7 separate regions of the Homo sapiens genome follow, and regions 1, 2, 4, 5, 6 and 7 are each linked to region 3. The links come from fine-mapping of genetic effects on gene expression. A gene starts in region 3. Each other region holds a variant in brackets. All regions are shown on one strand. Distances are from middle to middle.

Evidence for each region. PIP is the estimated chance that this variant, and not a neighbour inherited with it, causes the effect. A credible set is the group of variants that fine-mapping cannot tell apart.
Region 1: its variant is the best candidate, but not a certain one, in a credible set for the expression of FAM20C in monocytes (TOPMed, PIP 0.65).
Region 2: its variant is the best candidate, but not a certain one, in a credible set for the expression of FAM20C in whole blood (TOPMed, PIP 0.87).
Region 4: its variant is the best candidate, but not a certain one, in a credible set for the expression of FAM20C in lung (TOPMed, PIP 0.79).
Region 5: its variant is the best candidate, but not a certain one, in a credible set for the expression of FAM20C in whole blood (TOPMed, PIP 0.69).
Region 6: its variant is the best candidate, but not a certain one, in a credible set for the expression of FAM20C in whole blood (TOPMed, PIP 0.75).
Region 7: its variant is the best candidate, but not a certain one, in a credible set for the expression of FAM20C in whole blood (GTEx, PIP 0.50).

The regions. Positions count from the first base shown.
Region 1 is chr7:139,216-143,280 of GRCh38, forward strand. No RefSeq gene overlaps it. Among named protein-coding and RNA genes, the nearest start is that of LINC03015, 8.2 kb to the right of the region's middle. RefSeq lists an enhancer at 1-642. The variant C/G (reference allele first, on the strand shown) is at 1,847.
Region 2 is chr7:51,663-55,727 of GRCh38, forward strand. No RefSeq gene overlaps it. Among named protein-coding and RNA genes, the nearest start is that of FAM157D, 18 kb to the left of the region's middle. The variant T/C (reference allele first, on the strand shown) is at 2,058.
Region 3 is chr7:190,164-194,228 of GRCh38, forward strand. It overlaps FAM20C (FAM20C golgi associated secretory pathway kinase), which reads left to right and starts at 2,408. Exons shown (of 10, transcript NM_020223.4): 1 at 2,408-3,641. The coding sequence starts at 3,037.
Region 4 is chr7:68,611-72,675 of GRCh38, forward strand. It overlaps LOC105375113 (a long non-coding RNA gene), which reads right to left. Exons shown (of 3, transcript NR_187847.1): 3 at 1,807-2,961. Among named protein-coding and RNA genes, the nearest start is that of FAM157D, 35 kb to the left of the region's middle. The variant C/A (reference allele first, on the strand shown) is at 1,869.
Region 5 is chr7:80,621-84,685 of GRCh38, forward strand. The region is part of intron 1 of LOC105375113 (a long non-coding RNA gene); the gene reads right to left. LOC101929756 (a long non-coding RNA gene) reads left to right here. Exons shown (of 3, transcript NR_187733.1): 2 at 1-674; 3 at 2,295-2,729. Among named protein-coding and RNA genes, the nearest start is that of FAM157D, 47 kb to the left of the region's middle. RefSeq lists enhancers at 910-1,682, 1,683-2,453, 3,747-4,065. The variant T/C (reference allele first, on the strand shown) is at 2,253.
Region 6 is chr7:39,050-43,114 of GRCh38, forward strand. No RefSeq gene overlaps it. Among named protein-coding and RNA genes, the nearest start is that of FAM157D, 5.6 kb to the left of the region's middle. RefSeq lists an enhancer at 1,449-2,392. The variant A/G (reference allele first, on the strand shown) is at 2,372.
Region 7 is chr7:144,809-148,860 of GRCh38, forward strand. LINC03015 (long intergenic non-protein coding RNA 3015) reads right to left here. Exons shown (of 3, transcript NR_134325.1): 2 at 3,724-3,810; 3 at 1-3. Among named protein-coding and RNA genes, the nearest start is that of LINC03015, 2.6 kb to the right of the region's middle. The variant T/G (reference allele first, on the strand shown) is at 1,586.

The sequences.
Region 1 (4,065 bases), 51 kb before region 3:
CCCTGGGGAGGGCACCCAGCCTGTGCTCCCTGGAAGGGTGGGTTACTCCAGGCAGGCCACTCCTGCTGGCATGGCGATGATTCAGTTTCAGCCCTGCACCTGCAGCCTCTGGTTGCAGCCGGTCTGCAGTGTTTCTCTTTGTTCCCCCTTCCATCTTCCTCCCACCTTATGTTCCCATGCTTCCCAGCAGGAGCGGAGGCCCAATTTGCGTTTCCTTTTCTGTAATAAAGCCTGCTGATGGGTGATTGCAGCTTTCTCTCACTGCCAGGGAGGAACTGGGGTAGGCTCCAGGCAGCCAGAGGCACCACTGTGCTTCCGTGGGTTTCCCCGGGGCACCTTCAAGTTCCAGTGTGAGTGCTGTTGAGATTCCGGGCGTCCAGTGCACACACGGGAGACGGCCATTGCCTCCCCTCCAGCCCCAGCCGCGGTGCACAGGGCGAAGGCTGTCTGGGTGAAGGCTATTTGTGAGTGAGGCCGGGGAATGAGGGGCAGTTGGCTGCTGCTCTGGAGGCCTGGGCGGCCTTGGTGTCTGGGAGCCTCGGCCAGGACACTGGCCGGTGGGGCCCTCGTGGCCCTAGCTGACCTTGACTTACTGCAGCTGGAGCGAAGTCTCCCACAGGTCCTCCATCCTGCAGGGATTCGGGCATGACTAGGGGTCAGGTGAATCTGATGGACAGCCCTGCTGCATGAGTTCAGGCTGGGGCACTCCTGCAGGAGACTGAGCGCCCAGCACTGTCCATGAGGAGGGGGATTCTGAGCACTCACTGTGGCTGTGCCCCCGACTCAGCTGCAGCCTGGAGGGAGTGTCCAGCCCCAGGGAAGGCAGAAAGCCCTTGACAAACCCTGGTGCTCTGGCAGCCTGGTGGGCTGACAGGCAGCCCTGTCCCCATCCCTCCGCACGTCTCAGGCATGGCCTGCACGGGTCTCCTCGCAGGTGCCCCCACACCCCACCGTGCACGCCTGGCCATCTCCTAGAGAAAGGCCTCCCAGGCTGCTCAGGAGTGGCCAGGCTCCTCCTGCCCTCCTTCTCTTTGAGTGCTGAGCATGGGAGGCAGGTGGGGGGCCAAGGTCTTTGAGTGCTGAGCATGGGAGGCAGGTGGGGGGCCAAGGTCTTTGAGTGCTGAGCATGGGAGGCAGGTGGGGGGCCAAGGTCTTTGGGTGCTGAGCATGGGAAGCAGGTGGGGGGCCAAGGTCTTTGAGTGCTGAGCATGGGAGGCAGGTGGGGGGCCAAGGTCTTTGAGTGCTGAGCATGGGAGGCAGGTGGGGGGCCAAGGTCTTTGAGTGCTGAGCATGGGAAGCAGGTGGGGGGGCCAAGGTCTTTGAGTGCTGAGCATGGGAGGCAGGTTGGGGGCCAAGGTCTGAGCCTTTTGGAAGCACCCATCATCTGGTTCTCAAGTCAACTCTGATTTTCACGTCACTGGTGATTACTTCATTTTAAAAGGTAGCCTCCTGTTTTGGAGGTGTGAACTAAAAGCATAACCCTGAATCCCCCCCTCCACTGACTGAATGACCCTTCTCGGTCAAGGGGACCCAGAGAAACCTGAAAAGCTGAGTTCCAGGCCCTGACAGGAAGGGGGTCAGACATGCCTCGTCATACTCCCTCCCTTTGGGAGTTTAGACACAACTGACCAGCAGTAATGTTAAAACGGAGATCTTAAGACTGACAAAGCAGACTCTTGGTGGCAATAGGATACCGAATTATAACAGGACCCGAGGCCGCACAAGGCAGGGGTGGGTCCCACCTGCAGGCTGAGCAGGACCTGAGGCTGCACCTGTAGGCTACAGATCCTGTAGCAGGATCTTAACTTAAACGTTCCAAGTTTTAGACAGAGCCTTGCTCCTCTCA[C/G]CAACAGGAACTCAAAGAATCTCTGGATCCATCTATATCCTGTAAGCCCCCTTCAAGGTGTCCCACCTCCAAAGGCCGAGCCAGTGTGGACCTGCCATGCATGGCTGTATGTCTTTGCCTATAACTCCTGCCTCCCTGAGATGTCAAAACCAAACTGCAATCCGATCTCCTCAGGCACACGTTCTCAGGACTCGCTGGGACCGTGTCTGTCTGGCTGTGTCACTCACTGGCTCAGAAGAAACCTCTTTAAAATATTTTACAGAGTTTGGTTTTTCCATCAACAGAGAAAAGACTTGGAATATGCAGGAAAGACTTGATCAATTTCAGGTGGTGGGCAGAATGCTTGTCACAGACGCACCCACTGCAAGTCTGCACAGCTGAGTGGAAGGAGCTGGTGCCTGACACTGTGACCCGAACTCAAAGGGCCACTCAGGCAGCACAGGCTGGTTATCAAGGGCGTCACTCCACCACCTCCAAAGCAAAAGGGACGTGTGGAGGACTGTGCTGCATTTTGTCTCAGTATTCATCAGCCTGGAGATAGAAATGTGTTCCTGTCGGGGGCGAGCCTTCCCTGTTGGACGTGGGTTTCTGAGGTTGTGTTCCCATTGGGGGTCAGCCTTCCATGTTGGAAGTGGGTTTCTGAAGTTGTGTTCCCGTTGGGGGTGAGCCTTCCATGTTGGAAGTGGGTTTCTGAGGTTGTGTTCCTGTCGGGGGTGAGCCTTCCATGTTGGAAGTGGGTTTCTGAAGTTGTGTTCCCGTTGGGGGTGAGCCTTCCATGTTGGAAGTGGGTTTCTGAGGTTGTGTTCCTGTCGGGGGTGAGCCTTCCCCGTTGGAGGTGGGTTTCCGAGGTTGTGTTCCTGTCGGGGATGAGCCTTCCCTATTGGACATATGGGTTTCTGAGGTTGTCTTCCTGTCGGGGGTGAGCCTTCCCCGTTGGAAGTGGGTTTCTGAGGTTGTGTTCCTGTCGGGGGCGAGCCTTCCCCATTGGAAGTGTGTTTCTGAGATTGTGTTCCTGTCGGGGATGAGCCTTCCCCATTGGACGTGGGTTTCTGAGGTTGTCTTCCTGTTGGGGGTGAGCCTTCCCCATTGGAAGTGGGTTTCTGAGGTTGTGTTCCTGTCGGGGGCGAGCCTTCCCTGTTGGAAGTGGGTTTCTGAAGTTTGCTGTTGGAAGCAGAGCTTGCGTCCATGCTCACAGCAGCACCAGCCGCAATCAGTCACTGAGGTCTGTGCTGGGTGTGGAAGATGAGAGTGGTACCACATGTTCCTCAATCTGGACTAGAGGTTTGTCTGTGATTAGCGGAGACTGGCCTGCCAAGAGCCAAGGGCGCTGTGTTTGCATGTACAGCAGGCGTCTGATACGGTTCTGGGGCAGACGCCAGCCAGGCCGAGCAGGCAGCCTCCACTGCTCCGTGCATGGGGTCAGAGTCCACAGCATGGGACCTGGTCCCTGGGCAGGCCTGACAGACATCTGTGAACCAGGAATGGGCATATTCCAGGAGGTCTGGCACAAAGCAAAGTCATTGTAGACTTTGGCAATTGCATTTGTTCCAGATAATACATTTTCTTAGGACCTAAGGCCTCAGAACTTAAAATGAATGTTGTAAAGTTTGAAGCCAAAACAAAATGCAGACAGGCTGTACCCAGCAATTCCTGACTCTGCAATCTGGGCCTAATTCAAGTACTCATCTCCATGGCCTGCCAAAACCCTCCCACCGGAGCTCACCCTGTGGTCCAGTGCTCAGCACCATTCATACCTATGTTCGGGGACAGAAGCCACTCTGGGGACTAGGAAGAAAACACGTAAAGGAATTGAGCTTAAAATAAAAAGAAATTCGGTATATTTCATACCCACTAGCAATATGCCTTTAGAAAGAGACAGGCTGGCAACTGCACGTTGGGAAGGACGCACAGTGACTAGAACTCTCGTTCCCTACTGCTGGGAGTGCAAAACGGAACAGCCACTCTCCCGACTGCCCAGCGACCACACTCCCGGGTGTTTACCCAAGAGAAATAAAAATCGTGTCTGTAAAAGAATGTCTATCAGCCTTATTGATAACGTCTCCAAACCCTGATTACATCAAGTGTCCGACCGCAGGAGGACGGACGAGAACGGGTGGCCCTTCACAGAACAGGCTAATTCTCAGCATGTGGGAGCACTCGTGCGTGGAAGGCCAGGCGTGTGACACGTGTGAGCATAGCGTGGGCAGGACGCACGTGAG
Region 2 (4,065 bases), 140 kb before region 3:
CCAGTCTGAGTCCCAAAACCTCAAAAGTAGGGAAGCCGACAGTGCAGCCTTCAGTCTGGGGCCAAAGGCCCGAGAGCCCCTGGCAAACCACTGGTGTAAATCCAAGAGTCCAAAACTGAAGAACTTGGAGTCCGGTATTCAAGGGCAGGAGGCATCCAGCGTGGGAGAAAGATGAAGGCCGGAAGACTCAGCCAGTCTCGTCCTTCCGCATTTCTCTGCCTGCTTTTATCCCAGCCACACTGGCAACTGATGAGATGATGCCCACCCAGATTGAGGGTGGGTCTGCCTCTCCCAGGTCCACTGACTCAAATGTGAATCTCCCTTGGCAACACTCTCACGGACGCACCCAGGAACAATACTCTGCATCTTTCAATCCAATCAAGTTGACAATAGTAACCATCACATTAAGTAACCAATTAGTGAAAACTCATAATGAATCCATTATGCTAATGAACATCAAGGATTATGTTATGTTCATAACATAACATGTTACGAAAATAACTATATTTTCTTTAGAAACTGGTGACAGGAGTAGCATTGTTTAGATGTGTGAATGCTCCTGCTGCCTGGCTCCTGGGAAACAAGTTTCCCATGTGGAATTCTGTATTCAGTCTGCAGTGACATCACACGTCAGTTGCCTCTGCACACTTGTGAGAGAACGGGAGTGGAAAAGGCACTCAACACTTCAGCCATGAGAGGAAACCTGTTTGAACTAAGAGTCCCCTAAGAGGGGAGCCAGCACCACTTAAAAACCTTTAAGTACTCTCAATAGAAATCTTTAGTTCACAAGATGTTTTACAAATACCTTATCCTAGTCTCCATATCATTTGTGGAAGGGAAAGTTTAGATTTTATTATTATTTTTTAAAAAATTATTATAGATATATTTATTATTAAATTTTAGTCAATTTTATTAATCTTTTGATCATGTGATTTTTCTATGTATTTTGCGAAATCCACAAAATGTATTCAAAATATATTTTCTTATATTTTCATCTAAAGAGTCTTGCTATATTTATAAAGTTTCTCAGTCCACCTGAAAATAACCTTTGTGTATGTCTTGAGGTATAGATCTAAAGGTATCTTTTTTCAAAATGAAGAGCCAATTGCCCAAACGATTGGGCACTTTATTTGTTTTCTAATAGACTAAGTTTCAACACAGAAGAGGGTCTTCTTTGGTGCTCTGTACTCTTTTCCTTTGGTCTATTTTTCTCTTCTACCAAGATATCATGTGGCTGTAATTGCAATGGATTTATATGGTGTGCTTATATCTGGTGTAATGTATCCTCGACTTACTTTTTCTCCTTTAAAAGTATCTTGGTTATTATTGTCCTGTATTGTTTTTGGAGTCAGCCAGTCAAGTTTTAAAAAACACGTAAACAGATGCAGGTGAACGTGTCCCCATGGGTGTGTGCTTGGTGGGAACTGCATCAAATTCATCACCTCACTTGGGGAGACTTCATCGCTTTACCATGCAGGTCTCACCACACCTCCCCATTTATAGACATCTTTAAAAATATTCTTCACTGATATCTTTATTTTTTCATAAAGTTATTACCCTTGTCTTAGTTGATGTATTCCTAGGTAACTGATAACTTTTGTTGATGTCAAATGAAATTGCTTTTTATAATTATGAATTGGGTACTGCTGATAGTTTTGTTTACTAGTCTTGTGTCCAGTTGAACTCTCTTATTTGTTATGACCTTTTAAAATGTAGATTTTTATAGGGTCAATAAAGAATGATGGTTTCCTTTTATTCCTGACCCATTGTTCCACATTTAGTTCATTTTCTTGCATTATTGCACAAGCCGGTAACTCTACCCGAGGTTGCATAGAAAGGGTACATAGAAAGGGCATATCTTTGCCTTGCTCCTACCTCCCAAAGGCAGTTTCTGAAGCTTCACTGTCACATGTGGTGGCTGCTTTTTCTAGTCTATGATTTAGATGCTGCTTTTGCATCAACTTAGCTGTGGATTTTTTTTTTAATGAAGTTTCACTCTGTTCCCCAGCCTGGAGTGCAGTTGTGCAATCTTAGCTCCTGCAGGCCTAAGTGCTCTC[T/C]ATAAACCCCAAGTGCAGCAGGCGGGAGGAGACTCTGGCTATGCACAAAGTTTGCTGGTGGGAGGACAGAGCCAGGAACTCTGTGTGTGTCAGTAAAATGTTGGGGTGACAGTCACCTGGGGGGAAAGCCATCACAGAGGCACTGACATGAGCTGTGTGCATTGGGCAGTCTCTCCACCTCCAAGGGCCTCAGTGTCCTCTCAGGTGTGAGGGTCAGTGGTCCCCGTGGCCTACTGCCACATTCATTGAAATGCTACATGTCCAGAATATGCTATTTACTGGGGGGATAAAGGGAAAGAAATATACTTTGCGCATATTTCATACGGAAGACAATAGTGATAATGCTTCAATTAGTGCATTGGAGATGCCAGGTTGATTGTAAATGAAATTGTGCTGAGATCTCAGCTCTGCACCATAATTGCACTAAGTTTTTTGAATAGAAAACACTTTATCAAAGTTGTGACTTAGTGAGGAGAGATTGCTAATGTTTTTTGCAATGGAGTCTGTTGCTTTATCACATCAAAGATTTTGTTACAAATGCATGCCAGGTGACCTATGAAGTCATAAGCCTGCAGTAACTCACCTGGCTGGTGTAGAGGAGTGTAATTCTAACACGGCCATCCCTGTGGTAAGGGGAAAGGAAAACACTGAAAGGTTGCTTCTCTGTGAACAGAGTGGCTGTTTCCAGGTTTCTGACCCCAAGGACGTGGGTTCCAGTGGACACAGTGAGCCAGGCTGTGGGGTTACACAGCATGTACCATGATGATGGGGGTTCCTTCCTCTTAGGACTCAACACGCCCAGGGCCCTCTGGAAGCACACTCTGGAAGCTGTCCTTCTGCTCTGTTGAGGGGTAAAGAGTTGGTGAATCACCCCCAACCCCTCTAGTCCTTACTCAGTTTCCATCTAACACTACAGATGGGGCCTCATTATACAGATGCAGAAACAGAGACCCTGAGAGAGGTCTGGCCAGGCTGAGGCCCACAGTGAGTTCGTGATAAGGTAGGACCAGAGCCTGGGTCTCAGGCTCACGGTGCTCTCTGTGACCCCACTAGGTCAATCCTCTGTAACCTGCTTTAAGGGAAACAGGGTGGGGCCACACTCCCCGCAGCTCAGTCTGACCCTGTGGATCTGTGGCCTGAGAGTAGGACACATGCACCAGAATAGGTGATTCGGAGCCTGTGGTCCACTCTCAGCCTGTGTCCCCCACCCCACAGGCAGGGCCACTGCTTCCAGATTAAAGGAAAGGTGAGTTACTTAGCGCTCATTAACTCACGAAGTCAGAGGTAATCAAGACCAGATTGAACTTCCGTCCAATCGACTTAGGCACTCTCATGTTTAAAAATCCATATGGGGAAAATAATGCAAGAACGTAATTTTTTAAAAAGAATGTGGAAAAGTGGTGTAAAACTGTTAATTGTTCTTAATGTGAGCTGCAACTTTGGCCTCACTGTGGCTGCTCCGTGACGGATACTGAATGGCGGTGGGGCTCCTTGGAGCTTGCTGAGGGTTCCCGCCTGTATCCACTTTCCCTCCAGTCACATTATTTTAAGAAGGGAAACTGCCCCCCATTCCCTGCCTCCCTGCTTCCTTTGTGGTCCTTGGGAAAAAGAAATTCCACGAAGAAACTAGTCTGTGCTGCTGGGGTAAGGACAGTGTTTTCCCTGGAGGAGGCCACGCTGGAGGGACCACAGAGGCACTGCGGGCAGCTCACACCCTGCTCCAGTGTCCAGGTAATGGCCACAGGGTGAGCTTGGTTTTTCAAAATCTACTGAGCACTTTTCTGTAAGTACATGATATTTCAATGAAGCATTATGAAATTATATTATCAGAAGCCAAATTTGGTTTGTTTCCATTGGGTTTTCAAGGTCTATTTTATTCCTATCCTTTCCTTTTTCTTTACATTTTCTCCTCTTCTTTAACTAAAAAAACCTCTATAAGTTTGAAAGACTCTCAGGTCTTCAGGATAAAATGCGAATTGGTGCTTTAAGCTTTGTCCCTTCCTGCAGT
Region 3 (4,065 bases):
TGTGTATCTGTGTGTATCTATGTGTGCATCTGTGTGTGTCTGTTTTCTCTTTGTTTTTATGGTGTCCACGGATGGGCCGACTGAACCACCAAATTCCTCCTCAGAGCCCAGTAAAGGCACCAGGCGGAAGGGTCTGGCGGAGGGTTGGCCGCTGTCTCCTCACTCCTCAGCGGGGTCCTGTCTTCCGACTTTTGTCTCGCGCCGCCGCAGCCTGTGGACTCCTGGGCCCTCCTCTGAGAGCCTGCGCTGTGCCTGGCCCCGGGCGGAACTTTGAACGAGGCTCCTGTCTTAACTCGACTGCTTGTGCTTGGGGGAGATAAACAATAAACAGGAGCAGAAGAAAGTGTCCTCAGACCACGGCGGGTGCTGTTGGGAAAACAGTGGCGGGGCAGGGAGGGGGGCGCTTCTGAAGGACCTGGCGAGGTAGAGGCCACTGTTCTAAGAGGCAACAGACGAGATGAACCAGGACCCTCTGCGAGGGAGGGAGGCGTCCAGGGGTGCACACGGGTCCAGATAGCTGCCGGGCTCCCAAAAACCACTCTGGGGGTGAGGATGGGAGGGGAGAGGAGTTGGGGGCAGGAGGCAAGTGAAAGTAAGTGCCCAGGGAACCTCCATGAGGCCCCCCACACCGGATAATAGTGTTCCATGGGGTCTGCTCAGCCCCATGTCTGCCCCAAGACACTAGCCACAGCTCTGCGTCGAGGTCCTGTAGACCACGGGAGAGATGGGGGGGCCAGGAGCCTATAGAACTCCAAGTCCAAGGGGACCCTTGCTGGGAGAACACAGGCCAAGACCTTCCTTCCTGCCACAGGCTTCTGTCCCTGCTGTCTGCTCCCCCAGGACTCCCCCCACACCCGGGATCTTCCTCCTCACCCTCCTTGGCCTCTCTCAGTGACCCTGTCTACACACAGATGTGCTGTCCATGTGAGTGGAAGGAAGGAAGGATGAGGTCCACTCACAGGGGTGAAGCTGTCTCCTGAGGGGGCAGCCCACCTCCAGGTCACACCGCCCCACCCAACACAGCCTCCAGTCCAGCTCCAGGTGGGCCGCACCCAGCCCTTCACTCACTTCAAATGGCCCAAGACGCATGGATTCCACTGGCCAGCCGGACTGGAACAACTTCTCCCCTTATAAGTATCTAGTGGGTGCCCACGGAATGCCAGGCAATGGGCCAGGCTCAGAGATGAGTGATTCCTCAGGAACAATGGGCTCAACGCCCTTAATTCACATCAGAGGAAACTGAGGCTCAGAGAGGGCGGAGAGGGCCCTGGTAACACAGCCAGCCGGTGAAAGTAAGAGGGGGGGCCCAGGCCCTGCTCCCGGCCCACCCGCCTGGGCTTGCTGGCGAGGCTGCTGGCCCAGGCAGTCTGGGCACTGTGGAAGCAGCCGGCTTGAGGCACAGGGGATGTGGCCTCCTCCCACACACTTACCTCCCTGACTACATCTTAGGCTGACATCCAGATTAACTCATATTCCCTACAGGGAGCTGCACGGCCAGAAGCTGCTGGTTGCAGAAGCCACCAGCTGGTTGTACAAGCACCGCTCCCCTGGTTGTGGGTGACAGATGAGATGCACTCACGTGAACACACATGCATGTGCACACACACATGCACACAGACGCACACACAAACACACACAGGCATACACACGCACACGCACATCCACACACACACATGCGCACACACACGCACACGCCTGCACTCACACACCCCCGTCGGCCCCAAGCAGGAAGGCGCCCCCGGCACACCAGCCCCTCTCAGCGCCCCCAGCGGGCCCGGCGCCTGGAGGGTTAAGGCGGGCGCGTCCCGCGGGTGGGCGGGGGGGGGGGGACGGGACCGGTGCCGGGAGCTCCGCTGCCCTGGCGTCCCCTGGGTCCAGGCCCAGTCGCTCCTTGGGCCTCTCTCGCGGGGCCGCCTCCGCCTCCTCCTTGCCGAGACGGGCGTGGGGCACGGGGTCGCCGCCCGGCGGGGAGCTCATCCGGCGGCGCAGACGCCCCGCGGCTCCGGGGAGGGACTTGGCCTGGGCCCCGGCCCCGCGCTCCTCTGGGGAGGAGCCGAGAGGCTGCAGCTGGCGGCGGCGGCCCCGGGCGGGAGGGGGTCCCAGGAAGCGGCCAGGCCGGAGCCCCCCACTCGGCCGCAGCTGCTGGCCTGGCCAGAACCGAGCGCGCCCTCCCGGTCTCCGCCGCTTCCCTCTGCAAACCGCGGGCAGGAGGAGCCCTCTCCTTAGCGGGCCCGGAGCTCAGAGGCGTCGCGGGGCGCGGCCGAGGGGAGGAGGAAGGAGAGCGGGAGCGCAGCCGGCCCGGGCCCAGCCGTGACTCGTGGGGCGGCGGCTCCGCCAATCTGTGGGCGCTGACGCGGGGGGCGGCTCCGCGGCGCTCGATATCTGCCCGCCCGGGACGCGGGGCGCCGAGAGGCTCGGCCAGGCGGGAGCTGCGCTCGGGGCGGCCGCTGCACCTGCCCGGGACCCCGCCGGCCGCTCCCCGCGCCCACCCCTTCCGCCCTTCGCCCCCCCCTTCCCCCCAGCCCCGGTCTCCCGGGCGCGGCGTGAGAGCAGAGCCCGGCCCGGAGGAGCCGCCCCTTCCCCGCCCGCCCGCCCGGCGCCTGGAGAGGAGCGCGCTGAGGATCGGGACGCCTGCGGCCGCCGCCACCGCCCAGGCCCGTCGCGCCCCGGCCGGGATGGACCCACACGCCCGATGAGCCCCGCGCCGGCGGCTGCGAGCGCCGAGCCTCCCCCTGCTGCGGCCCCAGCCGCCCCCCGCGCGCCCGGCTCCGCGGACCAGGACCCCTGGGCTCCCCGGCTGAGGGCGCGGCCGCTCCGGAGAGGCCGAGCGGGGACGGGCCCGAGATGGCGCGGGGACCCAGCGCTCCGGCGGCGGGCGCCCTGCACGCGGCCCGGGCCCGGGGACAGCCCCGGAGCTGGTAGCCGCCCGGCACCGATGGACCTTGACCCGCGAGGCGGCGCCGCGCTCGTGCCCAGCTGCAGCTAGAGGGGCGCGCGGGCAGAACGCGCTCCAGGCCCGGGCCGGCCCGCGCGGCCATGAAGATGATGCTGGTGCGCCGGTTCCGCGTGCTCATCCTGATGGTGTTCCTGGTGGCCTGCGCGCTGCACATCGCCCTGGACCTGCTGCCCAGGCTGGAGCGACGCGGCGCGCGGCCCTCGGGGGAGCCCGGCTGTTCGTGCGCGCAGCCCGCCGCCGAGGTGGCCGCGCCCGGCTGGGCCCAGGTTCGGGGCCGCCCCGGGGAGCCCCCGGCCGCCTCCTCCGCCGCCGGCGACGCGGGCTGGCCCAACAAGCACACGCTCCGCATCCTGCAGGACTTCAGCTCCGACCCCTCCTCCAACCTCTCGTCCCACTCGCTGGAGAAACTGCCGCCCGCGGCCGAGCCGGCCGAGCGCGCCTTGCGGGGGCGGGATCCCGGCGCCCTAAGACCCCACGACCCCGCGCACCGGCCGCTGCTGCGAGACCCCGGCCCGCGTCGGTCCGAGTCGCCCCCCGGCCCCGGCGGAGACGCCTCCCTCCTGGCCAGGCTGTTCGAGCACCCGCTTTACCGGGTGGCGGTTCCGCCGCTCACGGAGGAGGACGTCCTGTTCAATGTGAACAGCGACACCAGGCTCAGCCCCAAAGCGGCGGAGAACCCGGACTGGTGAGTGGGGGCTGGCAGGTGCCCACCCCCAAGGGAGCCGTGAGCCCAAGGCATGGTGTAGAGAGGTTCAGGGGCCCCAGAGGGCCGCCCCCCATGGAAGAGGCCGGGCAGGGAGTGTGGTGCGGGAGGAGGCAGCCGCCTACCTCAGGGCGCTGCCTTTGTCTCCAGAATAACCTCCTCCTTGGGAGGGGCTGCCGGCTGGTCCGGGAGCTGTGCCCTGTGGCTGCTGGTGAGGAAGCCAGACCCCGCGCCCTTTAGAAGCGAGTCCTGACCAGCCGTGGTCACCAGCTTGGGAAATGGGGTCAGGCAATGAATGAATGAGTTGGTGAGGGAAGGAGCCAGGCTGCCGCTGGGCTTTCAGACACTTGGCGAGGGTGCTCTGGGTGGGCACCTTGGAGAAGGTCTGGATGTGCCTATTGAGTCT
Region 4 (4,065 bases), 120 kb before region 3:
TTGGAGAAAAGGGGGCCATGAAAAGGAGGGACAAGGTGTCATATATCAATGCGGCCAAGCGCCGACGCTGCCTCCTCCTTCCCCAGATCACCAGGAAGAAGTCAGAGGAGGCTGCTGTTCGTCGACCCACATGCTCCCTTGGGAGCTTGAGAAGCTGCTCCCCCTGGTGCTGCCCCTGGGTGCTGCTTACCGGGAAACTCATGGCATCCGAGATGCTCCACTGCGCTGGGTCTGTCCCGGATCCTCCCCGCAGGTCAGATTCATGTCAGGAATGCTGGAGGGTATTGCGGTCTGGCAGGAGCTCACTGTAGGGAAGGAGAGGCTGGGCTGGATCCCGAGGCTGAGCCGTCCGGCTCTGCAGCCCTCCCGGTGCTCAGTTATCAGGCTCACTACCTCTCAGAGGCGTCTCTTCTCTCTGTGGACATTTGTCTGTCACAGCTGCAAGATTCTCACAATAAACTTGCTCTCCAAATTCCTAAAAGAATTGCTTGCTCCAGTTTAGCCAGCTAAGACTTTCTTGGATAATGGCATAATCTGGAAGGATATTTAACAAATTCGTTTAAACTGGAAATTATTGACTCTATGGTGAGTCAGGAAAAACCACATTCACAATATTCAACAGCAGCGCTGGGCCTTGATGCTCCAGGGCAGTGCAGGGATTAGAGATCTGAGAGGTTTCATGACGCTTCTCAGGGGAATACACGGGTTCTGGGTTCTTCTAAGGAAGCTCCCTCCATGCCAGCCACCACCTTGTCTCTGCTGGGGAAACAGTGGTCCAGGGGCCCTCAACTGCAGGGAAATTATTGAACCTCCCAATGTCACTGCATCTCCTCTGGGTCTTCTTTTATTCCTTCTTTCCCCTAGAAAACACCTTCTGACACACTCCCGCTCTGCCTGTCTGTCCCCGGCTGCGGCCAGACAGCGAGCAGGGAAGAAATCCAGTGTCTGGACTGTTTGCTGGTCTGCAGAACCTGTTCTCTCGCAGTATCTGTTTTCCAATGCAGATTTTCACAGTTCCCTAAACAAACTTAAATTTCCATTCCCAGAATGACTTCATTTCCTGATACCCAGCCCAAATTCACGTGTGTTTGCAGCCGATGTGGCAACATAGCCACTTGGGTGGGGGTGAACATCACAGCCCACAGTTCTGCAGTTCAGATTTGGGTTTATCTTAGCACTTAGTGCAACTTTGCATTTGGCAGAGGTCTTTCTCTTTTGTAGTCCTTGCCACCAACCTCATTACTTGTGAGAGTCTGCCTCATGCCTGTCTGCTCAGCAGATGAGAGACCTTGAGGCCTGGGAAGATCCCGCCCTCCTTGGCTCTGTATTCCTAGGTAGTGCATTGCCTAGTGGTTGGTTAATTTTAGGTGTCAACTTGACTAGGCTGAGGGAAACCCAGATAGCTGATAAAACATGCTTTCTAAGTGCGCCTGAGAGGGCGTTTCCAGAAGAGATCAGCATTTGAATCAGGGGAGTGAGTGGGAAAATCCACGCTCCCCGAAGCCTGAGGGCCCAGATAGAACAAAAAGGCAGAGGAAGGGTGAATTCTTTCCTTATTCTGGATCTGAGACATCCATCTTCTCCTGCCCCCAAACATCAGAACTCGGGGTTCTCAGGCCTTTGGACTCTGGGACGTACACCAGCAACTTCCCTGGTTCTCCAGCTTGTAGATGGCAGCAGGACTTCTCATCCTCCATAATCACATGAGCCAAGTCACATGAAAAATCCCTGCTCATCCCTCTCTCTGTGTACATCCTATTGGTTCTGTTTCTATGGAGAACTCTAATACAACTGGCACAGACTAGCTGCTCAACAAGTGTTTTATTTCTGAATGACTGAGATGTTTGAGCAGCTTCCAAGCTTACATA[C/A]CTGTGTTTCCATTAAAGCCATTGTTTAGGAGGCCGATGGCAACAAAAGGTTGAAACATGGCAAAATCAGGGGCAGTTGATTTGAGTTATACCGTGATGTGTTTACATTTGTACTATGATAGGGATTTATTGCAAGGAGTTAGGAATGCTGGCCTCTAAAAGCTGGAAAAGTGTATTTTGTTGGGGAGGCCTGGGAGCCCCCATCTCACACACAGGAGGGAAGACACAAGGGGAAGCACTCGTGACGATGAACGAGATGTTGTTCCTGCCAGACGCAGGTCCTTGCCATGTGTGTGCATAACCTCATTTCATTCGATAGCAACTCAGGAGGAGGAAATCATTATTAACTGTATTCTTTTATGTACAGAAGCTGAGGCTTGAAAGTGAAAATGACACAGCTGTTCATGGTCTTGCTGGCATTGGAGCCAGGAGAGAAAAATCCCTTGGTAAAATCTCCCAGCTGAATGGGGAAATGGGAATATATCCCGCATGGCCCAAAGAGACCATGGCTGGAAGTGGTCACAGTCCTCGAGGGGGAGCTGTGTGGTGGCCAGGCTGTGGTCATGAAGACACAGCGGCGTGGGAGGCTGAGGGTCGCTGGGGATGCTGGCTGGAATGTTTCTGTTAATAGCTGGAGCTCCAGAGCCTGTCCTGGAAGAGGGATGGGGGCCTGGTCCTGGGAGGGTTTGTAAACCGGCATGAGCACATGTCAGGGTGGAGCTCTGACGTCAGGCCCCTGGCATGACTACAATAGACATCACACAAATGGGGCAAGAGGACCAAGCCTCCCCACGGTATAGCTGCTCAACTGTGTGGGGGGAGCTGTGGTGAAACACAGGACTCACTTAGAAAGATCCAGAGAGATAATCCACCCACAGAAAACCTGGAGAGCATTTTGAAACTTCCTACAGGAAATCCAGGAGAAAAGGAGTCCTATTCAGTGATGGGAGGGGGGGCAGGTCAGGGGCCGCATCGGAAGGCAGTCGTCTGAAGGGATGCACGGATTCACGACGGAGGTGCTGAGACAGCCACAGGAGATTGGGTGGGGAATCTAGAGCTGGGACACTCTGGTTTTGATGGAAGGAGCATCGCCCTAGGAAGCAAAGACACAGATTCGAGTCCAGGCCTGGAGCAAACTTCAATCACCCTTAAGCCCTCTGAGTTTCTGCGTCTGTGAAATAAGCATAATGATTCCCACCTCACAGGGGCAGGGGCAGGGGCAGGACACTGTGAGATTGTAAGGGTTGGTGTCCCTCTTCGCATGGAGTCAGCAGCCGGCTGGGCTGAGGGAGGTGTTTCTGTCCTTAGGTGTCGCAGGCTGGCTCTCGTGCGTCCTTCCTTCCACTTCTCCCCACCTGCATCCACACAGAGAATACACTACCTCCATAAAACGCTTGCAAGGGGCCACTGTTCTCAGCATTTCACCTGTCAACCTCACTTAAGCCTTAAACAGCCTATGATGAGGTTCTGATACTGTCTCCCTTGGCCTGCTGGAAGGCCCAGTGCTGAAGGACAACTGGGCACCCCGGCTCTTGGTATGGTCAAAGGCTCTCACCTGGACAGGGAGGACCCCCTCCTCTCCCTGGGCCTTCTGCTGCCCTGAGCCCCTACTGCTCTCTGCCACGGACTCGGGAGGGAGCATGAGCTGCATCCAACAGGCCGCAGCAGGTCCCGGCCTCTCAGCACCCAAGACCAGACAGAGGCAGTGCCTCGGCTGCAGTAAAGGCCTAGCGACCTGGGTGGGCATGGGGCACACGTTCTTACTCTGGCATTAGAGGTCATGCCACTGCTTGTCTTTACCATTCTACCCAGTGTCCTGCGAGGACTTGGTCCTCAGGTGGGTCACAAGTCTCAAGTCCATTAATTAACTGGTCGGAAGTGAGTCCTGGTCCATCCCTGTGAGGAGCAGGGGGACTGGCACCTCATTTCCTCGTGGACTCATGGCCCTACACAACGACACGCCTGGCCTTCCTGGACCCATGCACTCACTCCAGAAGGACATTTGCTTTGAGCTCGCCTGGTGGATGGGGTGCCCCTGAACATCTAACCATCAGTTGACATTTCCACCATCAGAAAGTTCCTCTAGGCAGCGCCCAGCTAGTGCTCCAAAGAGGTGCAGAATCTCTGAGAAATTATGTGGTCCACAGTCAACAGCTAACAACATTCATAGGACCTTATTAGCCGCCAGCTTGGAGAA
Region 5 (4,065 bases), 110 kb before region 3:
CAGCCCTGGGGCCTCATGGACTCCCCTGTTCACGCATCCCGGCAGCGCGCAAACCATCCCTGTCGGCTCCCAGTGAAATGCTACAGGATCTCAGGGCAGCTGCACCCCGCAGGTTCAGAAGGGATGGGATTCTGTGTCCTTTTCCTTCTTGCTTCAGACCTTCACCTGGGGCTCTAACACCGAAAGTCTGTGCCAGACAGAGGCATCCACAGCGACAGGAGCCTGGGCCAGGGCGGCCATCCCTGCTGCAGAGACAAATGTCAGTGTCCATGGAATCAGTTCGGTGCGGTGAGCGGCAGGTCTGATATGAAAGCTACTCGCACTTCCCGTCTGGGCAAGAGCAGGAACTCGGCAGGCAGAGAGCTGGTGGAGCTTTCCATGGGAAAACCAGAACCTTCAAAGAGCCCGGCCTCCCTCTGATCAGCCCCTTCTTTCTGATCAGATGCATTATTGACGAGGCAGCCTCCTCCACCTGCCTCTCATCAGAGCAGCTCGTTTCCCACCGTGGTAATTTATACTTGTGATTTTGGCCTTGATCAATAAAGGCAACGGAGAAGACGCACCCGTTCATTTCCTACAGGAGGGGCGGAAACACACAGGCCTCTGTGCAGAGCTTTCCTGGGCTCTTCTGAAGGCAAGCAAACCCATCAAAGGGAAGATCTGCACGCTGAAAGGTCAGCAGTTCCCTTTTCCCCATGGGATTTGTGTTAGCAACTTTGCGAGTGGAAGATGCATTTGGAACTGCCAGTCCCTTACAGCCCTCACATGGGAGGTGCAATGTTCATCCTGTCACTATTTTAAAACTCGTCTCAGGGTTGGGAGTAACTGAAACCGTTTTGGGCTTAATTTTGCATGAGGACGTAGCAGAGCATGACAGAAGGGAAAAAGAGAAAATGCTGGCAAAGGAGAAATGGCCCTAAGAGGGAAGCCGGATCCCTAGCTGGGTCGGAGTAGATGAGCGGGGAATGAGGGGCTGGAGGATGCAGCTCCGAGCGTGCAGGGGTGGTGTGCTCTCGGGAGGGAGCTGCTGTGGAGCTACTAAGGAGGGAGGCTGAGGGGTGGGAGAAAGCCCAGGGCTGTAATCGTAGCCCCTGGAGCCTGATTTAAAAGACTGGAGGAGGCAAAACCTTTCCTGGGTGACATCCATCCAGGGCATGACCCTGCGGCCTCCGTGTCTGCTGTGGGCGAGGCTGTCCCTGCAGCCAGCCCTGCCCCCATCCCTTCCCTTCTAGGGATGTTGGAGTGTGGGGCAGCCCAGCTTCTGCCCACAGCACAGATGAGGAACTGAGGATGCAGGGGCCCGTGGGGGACGGCACACGGTCAGCCCAGAATTAGGACCTAAGGTTGGCCCTATGGGTTCCTGCAGCACAGACGTGCAGCATGTGCACCCACATGTACACACAATCAGGCATAGCCACAGAGAATCACACCCTCCCACGCACACCCACACCCACACACCCTCCCACAGGCACACGCGCACCCTCACACTCATGGTCTCGCCCTCCCACAGGCACACCTACACTCACCCACGCCTACAGGCACACAAGCACACACTCCTTTCCCCCCACAATCCCTGCACACCCGTGGGCACCTATGCTCTCGTGTGGTCTGGATCTGCCCTCTGTGTGCACAGCCTGTGCCTGGCCCAGCGTGAGTGACTCGTGGATGCTCTGCAGGTGAGACCTGAGGTGAGTGTCCTGGCACCGCCCGGGCCTGGCTATCGGGAAGCTCCGCCCAGACGGCCGCCTCCTCCCTGGCGCGGGCCTCTTCCCTAGGAGGAGCTCGTTAGCTTGTTTTTCCATCGGTATTCTTTGTCCCCAGTCACCCGGACCTGGGGCTGGGCACTGCCAGGGGCAAATGTGCCATGTGGAGAGGCCAAGCGGGGGACAGGGGCGGCTTGTCCGCCAGGTGGCACCGAGGCGGCTGCGTGTGGGGCAGTGTTCCCACTCTCGTCACCAGCCCGCACTTCCCGCTGCCTCTGAGTATTCTGTGGGGGCTGCCCCGGCTGCAGCCCCAGGTGTAGCCTGCTGGAAATCTCACGGTGTCCAGGCCCCATCCCTAACCGGCCCGGGGCATCCCTGATTTCGTGCTCACCGAGAGGGGCCTCCCTCGGCCTGCCCAGCTAAGAGCCTTGCAGGAGCCCTTCTCCAGCCTCACACTGCCAGCCCCTTTGAATTGCAGCACTCAGGTCCCCAGGAAAGGTGTTTTTATCCAGTTAGCTGTTTTTTATACTTATGAAAAAGCTCCGTCGC[T/C]TGGAGCAAAGCAGAGTTGATTTTCAGATGTGATTTCTGCAGGCAGAGCAATGTCTGGTTCCTGCTGTTTCTTCTGATGGGCGCGGCGGTGACTGAGGGTGTCCTGCGAGCCGTCGGTGAGCGCTCAGCTGTCCTGGTCTGCAAGTTCCTACTGACATCACAACCTGCTGCTTCTCTCTGTCCTTAAGGGTCAGAAGATGGAGAAAAGGTTCATGTTTCCACCCCTGTATTCTGTTAGGTTCGGGTTTTTGAGAGAGGCTTGTGGGGAAGGGGCCGTGTCCCCACTCCTTCCTTTCTTCTTGTACACATATTTACATCCACTGATTGAGTGATTTACAATCACTCAACATGATTGACGGAACTTCTGGCACTGCGGAAGCTGTGCTAAGGCCTGGGCATTCATGGGACATGGAGCGTGCAAGAGCTGAAGTTTTAATGACTTGCTTGCAGAAAAAGATCAAGTTTTACAACAGAAAATTATGGGGCATAATTTCTATTGTGGCAAGGGACCAGGGCCGTCTCCTGGAGGAAATCTGGAGAGAACATGCCACAGCCAGGCCGGCGTAGAGAGAGGCTCTGGCAGGGGCCCCTCCCAACCCACCCCTGCATGCGTGGGGCTTCTGCTCAGCAACAGGGGCGCAGCTCCACTTTCAAAGTGTGAGGGGCAGGGGCTCAGGTCTCGGATGCCTTCACCACCTGCCTGAGTCGGGCATCGGGCAGGGAGCGTGCGGGGGCCTCTGCCTCTGCTGGCCCAGATGATTCCCTGGCCCTCCTCAAGTGCAGCTCCCATTAAATAGATAGAGCCGGGCTCTGAGCCACGAATTGGGCCAAGCATCCCAAGGGGGTGGAACCGAGTCAGGAGTCAAGACCAGAGGCCAGGAACTGCCCACGCCCATGTTCCTTCCACAGGGCCAGCCTGTCCGGTGGCAACACTAATACCATCCCATGAAGCCTGTGAAAATTAAAGGGAATGGTGCATGTTTAGAGGCCACACACAGCAAGTAACCAATGAACACCCACCCTTCATGCTTGGTTTTCATCACTGGGCCAGCAGGGGCGGAGGCCCCAGCACTCTCCCTGCCTGATGCCCGACTCAGGCAGGTGGGCTTGAGAGCCCCTCCCGGGGCTCCAGGGCTCTGAAGGCATCCAACACCTGGGCCCCTGCCCCTCACATTTTGGAAGTGGAGCTGTGCCCGTGCTGCTGAGCGAAAGCCCCATCCAGCTCTCCGAGAACCAGACGAGGGGCAAGGGAGATGAAGTCTTCCTGGAAACTTGGACTCCAGCTGGTGTGGGGGTCAGAGCAGCAGGCTGAGCCTTCAGGGGGCCTCCGGCAGGCTCCCAAGGCTGCGCTGTGCGTCTCTTCCACCACACGCACTGGGGCATGAGGCCAAGGGCATCGTCTGCAGAGCGAGAGGGAAACTGGGGTGGCAGGGCTTGCGGGCGCAGGACAGCGCCAAGGGGCTTTCGTCTCCCAGCATTAGGACGACCTTGTCCTCTGCCCCTGTCTGGGGGCCGCTGGGTCCCTCCTCACAGGAGCGAGGCAGGCAGCTCTGGTGCAGGGCCGGCCAACAGGCCTCAGATCTGGAGTCACAGACCCAAGGACGAGGACAAGGGCCCCACACACCTCCAAGCAGGCCCTGAGGTACTGACGGGCAGGCAGGACCCTCTGTGACCCTTCCTCACTCCTCACCCAGAGAAGCCAGGAGAGCGGGATGCCGAGGGACTGGAACAGAGAAGGCCTCTTGCAGGGGCTCATGGACAGGAAAACAGAGGAGCCTGCCAGGGCCATGGCCACTGGCAGGACAAGTGCCCA
Region 6 (4,065 bases), 150 kb before region 3:
TTAAATGCTAATTTCATCTGAAAAATACCACAGAATAATGTTGACCAAGTACTGGGAGAGGCCTTTTCCTTCGTCTTTTGGTAAATTGCAATCCCTGGGTATATTCACATTTGAAACTCAAATGTGGGCATTGGCTACTGCAGGCCTTTCCCGGCTCAATGGAGTGCAGACAGGGGAGGCACAGGAGTGACTCCACTGTGTGAAGAGAAGACTGATGAGGGCCCATGTGGCACCTCAGGTAGGGTCTGCACTGTCTGGACTATGGTCAGGCCCCTGCCTGAGCCAGCCCTGCTCTCCAGTGTCCCCAAGGAATCCCTGAAACTAGCATCTCATGGAGGAGATAGACGATGCAGGAGGTCCCCTGTGCCCAGAACAAATGGTACAACAAGGCCCCTCTGTTCCCCAAACTGGTCTCAGCAAACTTTCCCCACAGCTTGGATCTGGGCAGGTCACAGGGCCCAAACCTCATGACCAGCAGTGCTGGACCAGGGGGCTAGAAGGGCAGGTGGAGCTCTCTGATGACATTGTGGAGAGGAGGGGTGCCAGGCAAGGGGTGTCCAGGCAGGGGGTGTCCAGGATACTGTCCTGAGAGCCTCTCCAGGAACAGGTGCCCTTAGGGGCAGAGAAAAAGGCAACCGGGGAGACCAGAGGAGTCTGATGCAGATAAGGAGGGGCTCTGTCCAGTGATGTTTCTCCACAATGAGCTCTCCCGAGGACAAGCAGCCTGCTTTATAGGCGAACCCCATTGCACAGTGAGAAGACGAAGACTTCGGAACTCAGTTCCCTAGAACCTCTTCTCTCCCTGCATAGTCCAGCCCTATTGGTCCTTTCTGGTCTTGAAGGTCTTTAATGGAAACAAACCGCAAGGCCAAGGCCAGACCTGCCTGCCCTTCATGCCCATCTCCACGCAGCAGTTGAGTGTGGACTCTGCCTCCCCTGTCCCCCGAACAGTGAGTCCCCACCAGCCCCTCCAGGGACACAGTGCCAGCTCTGCAGCCCTCCCATCCCTCTGTCCATTCTTCTGCAGGCAGGATGGGCACTGTGGCTGGAGGAAGGCTCCTGATCCACTGCTTTGGGGGAATCTGATTTAGCACTCTACAGGGAACCCAACAGAGATCCAAAGCTGAGTACTGATTCAGAGAAAGAACATTTCTGCTAAGCTTAGGGCCTCAGGGAGGACAGATAATTATCTAAAGTTGACAGAACAATCAATTTTCTGGGTCTGAAGTTTACAAACAAAATCCCTCTCCTTTGAAGGCAGATTAGCCATGGAAACACCTTCTACATTGCCTGCCTAAATGGTTTGTCTCTGCAATCAATCTCTCTATTCTTTAAAACAGAATTAGGATAATTTGCATAATTGTTTCTTGTCTCAGAGAAATCTTACAGGGAGGCTGTCTCCAGATAACCAGCAGCCTGGGCTCCAGGCCGACGCCAAACCCACAGGCAGCCTTGTGGTAAGGCTCCAGGCTCTAGAGCCAAAGGATCTAGGTCAGAGGCTCCACCTGGGGCTCCTGCGCCCTCCCTGCCAGGGCGGCAGAGGGAGCCACATCCCTGAAAGCCTCTGGCTTAGGGACCTCAGAATTCCCACCTCTGATAAGGTAATGAAATGAGCCAAAGTTGGTAAAAATCTGTGAACAAACTGGCCTACAGTGGCTAAAACCAGAGGGAGAAAAATAATGTGATAAACCCCCAAACCAGCCATCCTGGGAAGTTTCAAGGGGCTGCTGTGCTCCTGACTCCTCCCCCGCCTCCTGGAGCTGCCCAGGTGAGCAGACAGAGTTTTGAGAGCTGGCGCTGAGACTCTGTGCCTGGAGACAGACACTGGGCAGGGACCCTCAACTTTCCTGTCCGTTTTGCGCAGTGAGTCAGAAACAGATGCTGGGGAGCAGCCAGCAAGCAGAGGGCTGCCTGTCTCAGAGGCAGGAGCATCCACCTCAGAGGATGCCAGGTGGGGAGATCCTGGACTGTGCCACCCCCAGGGAGGGCACAGGCACAGCAGGCCTCTCAGCAGGAGCTCGGGGGTGGAGTAGAGACCAGGGATTCCATAAGACTCCCCACTGCTCCCCATTCCCTAAGGTGCAGCAAAACGTCTCCGCTTCTATGAGGACAGTCCAGACGTCCCCAGCTTCCCCTAGAGCAGACAGAAGGCCTGAGGCCCTGGGAAACCCACGTGCCCACTGGAAGTGGGGAGTAAAAAGACAGAAGGGACCCGTCTGGAAACAAAACCAGTCAAGAACCAGACTCACCACTGCTTCAGAAAATATGGGGAAATGTGAGCATGAATTTCATAAAGCACAGTCAGCAAGCCACGAGGAGGGCCAGCGTCTGATGGACAGGGAGACTGCAGACCCCAGGAAGCAGCAGGAGA[A/G]CAAGGATTCCCTCTATGATTTCCCACGGCTGATGCTCCCGACCTGGTTTCCCTTCACTGGTGCTCCTCCTGTGTTCCACACTGGATACTATCCTGCCAATCCACGCCCCTTGCTGGCCTTCAGTGAGGTGGAACTCACCACACTCTGGCCTCTTTCTCCACTTCTCTTGCTACTGTCCATTTGCAAAGATCTCAGATGGCTGCACCATGTGTTCTGACCAGAGAAAGACTGCAACCACCTTTGCAAAGCTTATGACAGCGAGGGAGGTCACGCATGACTGACTCCACCTTACCTCTAGCCTCACAGGCAGGCTGTCCTGCTCATGCTTGGGCACAGGCTAAACTAATCCGGGGAGAAATTTAGTTATAAAACAATACTAGTCCCTCTCTAAAACTAAAGCCCTCCTTCCTTGAGGACCAAAAACGAATGAAAGGCCACGTGATTAGGATTTCGGGAGGAGCCCGAACTCTGCTAAAATGTAGACATAGTTTCCGTAATTCCTTATTGTTCAGAAGTCATATGGCTAGAAGTCACACAATTTGTGACTTCTCCAATTGCTTCTGTAGATAACAACACTATTGTAGAGCCTGAGTTTGGTTTTTTCAGCTGTTTTCCAGATTTTTGCATTCTGCCAACCGACTGACCCTACCCAGACCCATGGCTCATGACTCAACTGGTCCTATGCACTCCCACCTCCCCACCCAGAGGCAGACTCCGTGACAGGATCGTTTTCTACACCCTATGACTGCATCCCTAAACAATCAACCGCACCCACTCCCTGGTCCTCTGCCCACCAAACAATCCTTGAAAAACCCAAACCTCCCGTTCTTCTGGGAGACTGATTTGAGTAGCAGCTCCTTCTCCCACGTGGCTAGCTGCATCAATTAAACTGTTTCTTTAGTGCAGTACCACAGTCTCGGTGAATTGGTTTTGTCTGTACAGTGGGTGGGAAGAACCCATTGGGCAACTGCAAGACAGTTCAGCGTGCTTGCTCATCGTACTGGAAATAAAACCTATTTGTAGGGTCAAAGGGGCAAAGTTGTCCCATGTTATTCCCTTTTGGGGAGTTATCTGTTGGGTGTTTCTAGCCTGCTGCAAGCTAGGATAAAGCAGAGGTCCTCGTGCCTCTCCTCCAGGACCCCATACAAACACCTTGTCCTCCATGAAGAACCCGGGACCTGCAGCCCTCCTCTCCTGTGACCTTCCCAGTCACTTCATCCTCATCTCGGGGTGCTGCCAGCTGAATGTGCTGTGCTCACTGGCTGCACCACTACCCCCGTGCACACACACTCCTGCAGATGAGAGCTGCCAAGGCAGAGAGTGAACTTTTCTGATTTGACATTCCCTGTACATTTGTGCCTTGACACGCCACACAAATACAGTGTGCAGACACCAGTAAAAACAGAGAAAAGGTGGGGACATAAAGGCCCAGACGTAAGAGTGGGCAAGGGTGCCCTCTGGTTCATTTCACTCTGCAGTCGACTCCCAAGGTGAACCTAGTGAATTCTGCCTCAGAAGCCCTGGTTTCCTTGTCTCTGACACTGAATCCACAGTAGCCATGATCCACGTTTATTGGATCACCAGTATTTTGAGGAATGTTAGTATCATTCTACAAAAAATATTTTAAAAATTGATTTCTATAATCAGGAAATTTCAGGAAACCCTGAGTAAAAATGATTGATTATTGCAAAAC
Region 7 (4,052 bases), 45 kb before region 3:
GTGCTTCAGGGGATACAAAATGGATACACAGATAACTCTAATACAAAATAAGGTCTGAGGGCAGGAATTTTGGAATATTGTCATATTTGTTTCTAGAGTTATTTTAGAAAAGCTCATATTGTGGGATTTGGATGAAAATTCATCATTACATTCTTAATAGACCGATTTGGGGGGCAAACTGGAGTCCTTTTGTAACACTGGTTTGGATAAGGGAATTTGAAATTACCTCAAAGAATAAGCAACAGTTCTAATTTTCATTCCATTTAGGTTCAGAAAAAGGATGGAGGTAGAAAGTCCTCTCTCCCAAACACTATGATTGACACTGCAGAGTTCTGCAACTCTCGTACGAGGGAGATTTCATGATGATCTCAGTAACCGATCAGAGAATCAACGACTGACTTCGCTGAGGCACGGTGATGAAAAGGTCAAGGTGGTCTGGTCTGAGTGAAGTCACAGCAAGAACCCTTGTCCAGGGCCATTCTCACCTTTGGGGACAGCTCCTTCCCTGTATGGTCCTCATGTCACTGCACTTTCCTGCCTTGTTTCTTGCTGAAGCCATTATTTCTTAATTCCTTAGTAGATATGCAGAGCGGACATCCCAAAGAAGCTAGAAAAATTGATGAGCAGGGAACAGATCAAATCCTCTCCATCAGTGGAAGGCAATTCACGAGGGAAGAAGGCAAGACCATGGGGTAATTTTTCTGAGACTTGACAATGTTTGCCAAGTAAATAAATCTGCCATTTAACACTACGATAAAAGCTGTCATAGCCAGGGTATTAGTGACTACTTGAGGTTTGAGGACAATGAAGACAGAGTAAGATAAACATCCTTACTATCCAGAAAAAAAAAACGGAACCAGAAGACAGCGCTTCTTACTATCCACAAAAGAAATGGAACCGCAAGACAGCCCTTCTTATTTTTCTCCATCTTCGATGGTGAGGAAGAATAAAAAAAAAGTTGCTTTTAAAGTATATTCATTAAAATCAAATTCTATTATCATACACACAAAATATTTACGTGAAACCAGCCACAAAAGAATGACAAGGAACGCTACTGATTTGTCCATTCTGGGGGATAAGAACACAGATTCTTATCTCACTCTTGTTAAAAGAAAACTTCAGCTGAATTAAATTTAAAGGAGTTTAATTGAGCAATGAATGATTTGCACATCGGGCAGCCCCCAGAATTACAGCAGATTCAGAGAGACTCCAGTGCAGCCACGTGGTGGAAGATTTATAGACAAAAAAAGGGAAGTGAGGTAGAGAAACACCTGGATTAGTTACAGGTTGGCATTTGCCTTATTTACACACAGTTTGAACATTCAGCAGTGTATGAGTGATTGAAGTACGGCTGCTGGGACTGGCCGAGACTCAGCAATTGTGACAGGTACATACTCCTAATTTAGGTTTTCAATCTTGTCTACCTATTAAGTTAGGCTCAGTTTGTTCACAGGGACTCCAATACAGAAGTACGGAGTCCTTCTCAGGCCATATTTAGTTCGCTTTAACAATTCCCCCTTTTTGGTCATTTTATCAGTTTTGAGAGATTGATCGAAACTTGAGTTATTGATGTCACTGTCACCAT[T/G]GGTCTTGAAACCCACTAGGAAGCAGAACAGTGAGTTTTGCAAAGGTAGGAACAAGGACTGAGTTGAGGATACCACCTTATGCTGGAAAGTCCTGTTTGCAAGAGAAAAACAAAACCTGGTCTATTCTAGGACCCATGTGTTTCCTTAAAGTCTTAATTCGATTATGTCACATTTAGCACGAATGATGCCATTTTGGTTCGGTTTGGTCTGTTGGGACCTAGTGCTCAGTCCAAAACAATGGCCTCCCATCATTTTGTTTAAAAAATTCCCCCTTTGTCAGGTTGTCACTTAGGCAAGAGTGTGACCAAAACTTAGGATGTTAGCGCCACTCTCCGTTACTATCATTTTGGATTTCCAGTCTCAGCATGTCACTCATCGGTTTCGGTGTCCTCGTGGTCACACATTTCTTTCAGCTCTTGTCATTCCAGTTGAAGAGAGACCATCTGACGTTCTAAAGATGGCTTCATGCAAACATTTAAAACCTTTGAGAGAATACAGTGCACCAGGGAGACTATTCTTATGACTACTGAGAGGGTTAACACCAAGAATTTGGAGTATGCTCCTTAGCCAGGGTCCCCATAAACCAGACCACCTAAACTCAAATAGACCATTCTTTGACTTAACTCAGTGGTCTTTTCGTTAATTCCCTACAACAGACTCTCTATAACACCTGATGTTTTCTCCATAGGCCTTAAGTGCCAGCATCTGCACAGGTACTTTCCTGTTTAGCCAATTCTATTTTTTAGCATAACTTTCACAAGAGAATTTAACATCTGTTGTGTAGCCTTTACAGTAGAATCTGCTACAGAGTCTACCATGAGGGATATGTTTCTAGTCATTGCCTTTTTAATTCCAAACCATGGAAAAAGGACCTAACAAATGATGCCCTTCTAGAAGAGGGAAGGCCTCTTGGCAATGGTCTCTTTAACCCATGCTGTGGGTTAAGAGGAGTGAACCAATGTTCTGCTTCTGAATGATTATGAGGCACCATATGTACCATTGAAGTTTCTCACCTATGATACACTGGGCCTTCATCTTTATCTATCAAGTTATAAGATTATCCATGTATAAAGCTGGCTGCAAAGCCCTTCACAAATAAAAGTATACCCCATAAGTGCACAAAACAGACCCCCTTCTCACTTCTGTTGTTCACAGAGGCGGAAGCAACGGAAAAACATTCAAAGATAAGAGTCTCATGATAGTAAGAAGTCTTGATCCATGATCTTCAGAAAGAGCTGCTCACATCAAGGATGCCATCTTCTTCTGGGGAGAAACTTCCCTGATTAGCTTTACCTTAAGGGTTTCAATGGATGTAGAGTTCCAAGAGTGACCCTGCTCAGTTGTGAGATTATGACCCCAAGGTTCAAGATCCTGATGTTTTGTTGCAGTGATGATGCCAAGGGCAGCGTTTCTCTGATGTTCTCAGAAGATCCCATCTTTGGGTTCTAGATTGTGAAGGGGTTGATTGTCCTCAGTGAACCATAAAAAGCTCTTTACCTGGTGAAAATACACTGATACATAGTAATCTACTGTTATAACATTAGCCCTCCTGCATGGGAAAGCTTTAGTACAACCAGAACACATACATTGAAAATGACAACTGAATGAAACCCCTTTATAAATGTTTAAATGCCTCATCAGGTAGCCAAATGTACATGAAGCTTTGATTGACTTCCCAGGAGTATGGGTTTGACAAACTAAACATTGTTTATAAACTATTTTAACAATCTGTAAGTCACCACACCAACATATTTAATTTGGATCATTTTATCTTTTCCAGGATGAGTCATGGAATGCATAACTTTTAATAACAAAAGCTTTAAGGACTCACGAAGGACAAGGCAGCCATCTTGGTTCTCCATGAGTCCATGCTTAACATCGGACTTATGTCCTCTTGGGTGCCAGTTGTTTCTCCAAATTGGGCACATAGCATGGATAACTGATGGGTTATCACAGGTAATTTGACTTAGACCATGGAGTTCATTCAAATTGTATATCTAAACAATTTCAGTATAGGCTGATTAAGTATGCAAACCTGGTGAAGCATTTCCTCGGTATTCAATTAATTTTTATTCTATTTGGGTTAGCAGTTTTATAAGCCAGTCAGTCTTTTCATTAAAGTTTCAGCAATTCTTACCCAGTCCAAATGATGTGATTTTGAAGTTACTAGAAACCTGTATTCCACAGTGCTTTTCAGGGTCCTCCCCATCCGTTCACGAACCTCCTAAAAGACACCATGTTCTAGGATTTTTGTGTGCTTGTGAAGTTTTCAGAAACTACATCAGCATGAAGCAATTAACTGCGGAAATGACTTTAAATACTCAAAAAGACACAATTGACAAAGAAATTTGGTTATAACAACAACATAACCATAATTATGATCGGTAGCATATACTCAGAAAAATTAGAATTTTAGAAATCCCATACAACTTTGGAACATATATTAATATCATTCACTAAAATATA